2 separate regions of the Homo sapiens genome follow, and region 1 is linked to region 2. The links come from fine-mapping of genetic effects on plasma protein levels. A gene starts in region 2. The other region holds a variant in brackets. All regions are shown on one strand. Distances are between the middles of the regions.

Region 1 (2,916 bases), 330 kb before region 2:
TTTTTTTTTTTTTTTTTTTTGAGACGGAGTCTCGCTCTGTCGCCCAGGCCGGAGTGCAGTAGTTGCGATCTCAGCTCGCTGCAACCTCCACCTCCCAGATTCACGCCATTCTCCTGCGTCAGCCTCCCGAGTAGCTGGGACTACAGGCGCCCACCACCATGCCTGGCTAATTTTTTTTTTTTTGTATTTTTGGTAGAGACGGGGTTTCACCATGTTACCCAGGATGGTCTCGATCTCCTGACCTCATGATCCACCCGCCTCAGCCTCCCAAAGTGCTGGGATTACAGGCGTGAGCCACCGTGCCCGGCCAGGAATTGAATGTTCTTTGCATAGTTGTTAGGATCTTGGAGACCTGGGTTTAAAATCTAGATGCGATAGGTATTTGACATCTTAAGCAGCATTTATAAAATGAGTACAATAGTATTATACTTAATCCATATGGTTTTTATAAGAATCAAATGAAATATTGTATGTAAAATGCATAGTACACTGCATGTATTTATTGGGTATCATCTTTTCATAATAATAAATATAAATGGTTAAGCTTACATGCATTCATTCAAAAAATAATTTGTTTCGTGCCTACTAAGAGCCAGGAGTTAGGGAATATAGCAGTTAATCATGGTCAAAAAACTGCCCTCATGGAGTTTGGTGTGTTCACAGGGTTGTGGGAGAATCAAATAAGATAGTATGAGTAGATTATTTGTAATTTTTTGAATAAAAGGATAGACATTTATTTCTCTATAATGATGTGAACCCAGACATATCTAAGAGTCAAAGTATAGATGAAACATCTTCTTTCAGTCCCTGTTAGTCCTGTGATTGGATGTCAAGACCTGGGTAAAGGAGATTTCATAAAATACCTTTATTTTGTCAAATATCATAGTGACATTTGCACTATTTTTTAGGATTGATAAAACATCAGTTGTAAATAATTTCTGTGAAGTAAAACAATGTTGAAATACCTGTATTCATTAAGGTTGAGCAAGAGATTGTATACCCTTGATGTGAGTCAAACAGACCTGTCTTCACTACCTTACGACCTGCCTCAGCTGTACTCTCAGTTCCATAAGCTTTAATATGTTTAGAAATTCAAAACTAAAATTACCTCCTAACTTTAGTATATAGCTCATTCATAAATCTTATTTCTAGCAATTGGCTACATTACTTATGATTGGCACGGCAGGAAAATATTATGAATGCTACATTATTTATGTAAAATGTAGCCTTGCATATAATCACCTAATAATTACCATCCCACATATTTTTAAACACCAATCCTTTGCAGGAAGGGATATATTTAGTAAACCAAATAAAACGAGAAATTCCTACTTAAACAGAAGTGTTTTGAGTTGCTCAGACTAAAGGAAGTAAAGTATTATTTATATAACTTCTGGGTTTGCTGGCTTAAGAAAAAAAATAGTACTTACATTGCCTAATAATCTAGGATATTATATTTGTACTACAGAAAGTAAATTAATTTTAAATTAATTTTTCTTATTATCTTCTCACATAGTTAATAACTATATAAACATAATGCTCTGTACACATAAGGTGCCTGGCAGAAGAGAAAGGAAAAAACTTTTTTTAGAAAAATGTTA[A/T]GGTAGTACTTTAAAGAAAAATATCAACCAATATGAAGTTCAGTGTCATTTTGTCATTCTACTATGAGAAATCAATAAAATTGATATTCGAAATATTTGTAATTTCACTCAGCATAACTTTAAATATAATATTTTTAGCTATTTTTAGAATGTAGATTTTTATCGTTGCCTGGATTTAACAAATTTTATTTTTTATTGCTTATTTTTTAATATATTTGTTTCAATCCTAATGAGAATATGACGGCTAAGCCAAGGAGCTGGGGGAATAACAGAGTGACACTTTCTTTGGTATGTTTCACTATTATGTACAAATAAGTAATCATCATTCCAAAATTTGTCTCTGTATCTTTTTTCTAAATGTGTGCATATAGCACCATTTTCCTTCCCAGATCTTTCCATTCAGTTCTAAAATGAAGGCAGACTTGCACTAAAACAATTTCTTCCTTTTCCCAGAGGGAAGTCAAAGTGAAAAGCAATGCCTTCTTTCCTTAACTGACACCAGATCAAATAAAATAATACAAACCATAATGCTATTCATTTCTGACAAATGGAATGCACTCAATAAAAAGCAACTCTTGCAGTTGTGGTTGATGTTGTTGTTGTCATTACTGATCGAAGTACTTGTTTCTTTAGAGTCCAAAGGCTTAGGAAGCCATGGGTTTCAGTCCTGTCAAAACTGACAACACTTTCCTGCTAGGTTTAAAACTTATTTCGGTAGGGAGACTGGCTCCTATCTGAGAATAAAGGAAGTCTCTGGTCATGCGACACCATGTACTCTTATAATTATATTAATTTTTAATACACATGTAAGCTGTTCATTGATTTTTGGCATCTCTGACCAAAGTTAATAATAATTATAATTATATTTACTTTTTAAAATTTACCCAGAATGATTTAACATAGGCTGAATTGTTTTAGACAAATCATTTAGAAGACACTGGAAAGAATGCCTAGGGTTAGCATCTGTTTCTCTTGCAAACAAAATTAATCAGCCATCTGTGTAATAAGAAATGTTTGTTCTTTACTTGTATGAAACATTGTTTGGAACGTTGAACAGAACACTCTGCTATCATCCTCAAATTTCTCTCTAAGAAACCAACAAGCATAGTAAATGACTTGGACTATATTCATTCTACTGGGTTAAATATCTGATGGCACTGCAAGTAAAATGAAGTTGCTAGTTTACAGTTAACCCTAATGACAAGTTTTGTGCTCCTTATTATTCTCAGTCAAAAGTACATCTTGACTTCAAGAGTGGTCAGTAGTTTCTGAATGTCCATTGTCATGTATCACCTGAAAGATACATTTTTTATAT
Region 2 (2,916 bases):
TGAGGTCAGGAGTTCGAGACCAGCCTAGCCAACATGGTGAAACCCTGTCTCTGCTAAAAATACAAATTAGCCGCGAGTGGTGGCGTGCACCTGTAGTCCCAGCTACTCAGGAGGCTGAGGCAGGAGAATTGCTTGAACTGGGGAGGCAGCAGTTGAAGTAAGCCGAGATCGTGCCACTGCACTCCAGCCTGGGCAACAAGAGTGAAACTCCGTCAAAACAAAACAACAACAAAAAACAAAAAAAACTCCTCAAATGTGAAGCTGAGAATTTTGAAGCTCATTTATAAATTCACACCACCCTTGTGGGAGGGGAGAGAAGGCAGATCACATCTCTGGGCTCAGTTGGGGCAACCATTCTAGGATGCTCAGAGAGACCTGCTCCTAGAAATCCAGAGTTTCCTAAAAGCTGGGATCAGAGTTCTGGCAAGAAGGCTGTAGCCTGGGCCTTGGCCCTAGACCACCAAAAAAGTGAATACAGGCTTAGGCAGTGTTCATAGAGGCCCAGCATCTGGAACAAGGGTGCTGCTGTAGTCTGTGCTGGTCAGACCACACAGGAAGAATTGTTTATTTTCCGGATACTATGATTTTAAAAGGATACAAGCAAATTGGTGTGTATCAAAAGGAAGCTGACCAGAATGTTGAAGGGACTTGGAAACCAAATCACTAGTTACTTTTCAGTGGTTTGGGCTCCAGGACTGGAGGGGGTTTAGGGTGGGGGGTAGAGGATGGTGTTAGGCAGCATAGATAATTAGAACTGTTTTCAGATATGCAAATGCTGTTTTGTGAAAACACACACACACGCGAACACACACAAAACAAGAAAAACTTGTACTTTAGGTAAGGCCAGAAAACAGAACTGGGACCCGTGGGATTTAAGCTCAACATGAAGAATCTGTAAACCATTATAGCTCTTCAAAAGTGGGCTAGACTTTGTAAGCACGCAAGGTTTAAACTGTTCAGGTAAAGACCAGGAAGCCCTCCAGCTGCTCTGTCCAGACCGAGGCCGGCTCTCCAAGTCCGCGCTGGGGACGATGGGAGGTGTGCACCTGCGACAGAACACAGGTACCGCCAGGTCCGGGTAGCGGTGGCTTTTCGCCGAGGTCCCCCGCCTCCGCATACTTCTTGCCCTCGCTGCTTCCCCGGCCGCCTCTCCTGGCCCCACTCCTCGCCCGGCGCTCGCCGCTACAACTCCCGCCTGGGCTGGCGCGAGACCCGCGAGCGCCGGAGTGGGCGCGCGGGATGCGCGCGGGCCGGCGCCCGGAGCTCTGGGCATGCTCAGTCGCGCGGGCAGGGCTCCGGGCGCGAGCTGGGCTCCTTCTGCACCACATTCAGCGGCTGCCAAGAGGAGCCGACGGGCGCTCGCAGGCTCAGCGCGCGCTGCCCGCGGCAGGACCCGGCCGCCTCCGCCGCCGCCGCCGCCCCTAAGCCTCCCGAAGCCATGGCCGGGCTCGGCCACCCCGCCGCCTTCGGCCGGGCCACCCACGCCGTGGTGCGGGCGCTACCCGAGTCGCTCGGCCAGCACGCGCTGAGAAGCGCCAAGGGCGAGGAGGTGGACGTCGCCCGCGCGGAACGGCAGCACCAGCTCTACGTGGGCGTGCTGGGCAGCAAGCTGGGGCTGCAGGTGGTGGAGCTGCCGGCCGACGAGAGCCTTCCGGACTGCGTCTTCGTGGAGGACGTGGCCGTGGTGTGCGAGGAGACGGCCCTCATCACCCGACCCGGGGCGCCGAGCCGGAGGAAGGAGGTAACTGCCGACTCGAGGGGCGCGGCCGGGGCGCGCGCCAGGCCCTCCCCCGCCGCCGGCCGCCGTGTTGCCTGGGGAGTCGCGCCATTGGCCCTCGGGCTAGTAGTTCACAACTTCCCGTCGGGGGGCGAGTGTGTGTGTGTGTGTGTGTGTCAGAGAGTCAGAGAGAAGTTCATTGTTCACACCTCCCGGCTGCCGGCAGCCTTCTGGAGGATCCGATTCAATGTGGTTGTACGGTCTCGGGCAGGTGGGTGGGCGGGGGATTCCGTCTCACGGGCATTTTTATTTGTGAAAATTAAACGGCAGCGACGACAGTGCAACTCTGAGTGTTTCCCAGGGAGCGAGGGCCGCGAGGGGTGCCGCTCCGGTAGGGCGGGTGGAGGCTGGGCGTCCCTCCAGGGGGCAGCGCCAGTCGTGACACCGAAGCCCCCAAGTCCTGCCTGGCGCTCGGAGCAGGACAAGCTGGATGAATTAACGGGGTGTCGGTGCCCACAGACCTGGGGCTTCTCAAGTTAGTTTTCAGTGGTGGCGAGTGAGTCCCAAAGAACGGGACTAGTAAGTGAATGAATGGAAGGAAAAGTGTTTTGTTGGTGAGCTGTGCTAAATGTGTGCATGAATGGGCTAGGTTTGAAAAGCTGTACTCTGTGCGGTGTTGGGTGTGTGTGCTAGCGAGCGTGTTTAATTAGAGATGGTTGTTTCACAAATTCCATAATTTTTATTCTCTATATTTTTAAACTCACAGCAATTAAGAGAGTTTTTCTGTTCTCAAGGGTTGTAACTACTTTGAAATACTGCAGCTTGTGAAATGGCTGATTGCTTTAAGTGCAATGTAGGTTAGTGGGGAGAGACAAATAGAGTGAGATTGGATTTTAAAATGCCATCTGGCCTGGGATTCTTCTCATTGCCAGTTAAGAGCCCAGGCTCAAGACTCCGTTGCTATTGGCATCCAGTGGCATTGCAAGAAGCTAGTGGTTTCTTTCATTTCTGGAGATTTAAGAATTTTTTTTCTATTTTGTCTGTATTCACTTCACATTGGAAATGCCTCATAGAGCTTATGATAAAATATGCTTATTCCTCACCTGCTCCACTACTTGGTTGATGGAATGCCACATGGTCTGAGAAAATAAGCATATTCTACTAATTTCTCATCGAGATAATCAGCTTTTATTTCACCC

Which allele goes with the higher level. Alleles are on the strand shown, and positions count from the first base shown. The strength of an association depends on the size of the effect and on how common the allele is.
For the plasma level of the protein whose gene starts at base 1,325 in region 2, T is the low allele of the variant in region 1 and A is the other (weak association).

What was found. A credible set is the group of variants that fine-mapping cannot tell apart. PIP is the posterior inclusion probability: the model's chance that the variant is causal. Protein levels are from antibody-based Olink assays in UK Biobank. Linkage for the fine-mapping came from a reference panel and not from the study's own genotypes, which makes the PIPs less certain.
Region 1: its variant is the best candidate, but not a certain one, in a credible set for the plasma level of the DDAH1 protein (UK Biobank, PIP 0.82).

Annotation. Positions count from the first base shown.
Region 1 is chr1:85,794,312-85,797,227 of GRCh38, reverse strand. The region is part of intron 47 of COL24A1 (collagen type XXIV alpha 1 chain); the gene reads left to right. Among named protein-coding and RNA genes, the nearest start is that of ZNHIT6, 87 kb to the right of the region's middle. The variant A/T (reference allele first, on the strand shown) is at 1,602.
Region 2 is chr1:85,463,568-85,466,483 of GRCh38, reverse strand. It overlaps DDAH1 (dimethylarginine dimethylaminohydrolase 1), which reads left to right and starts at 1,325. Exons shown (of 6, transcript NM_012137.4): 1 at 1,325-1,741. The coding sequence starts at 1,439. RefSeq lists silencers at 1,067-1,476, 1,717-1,916.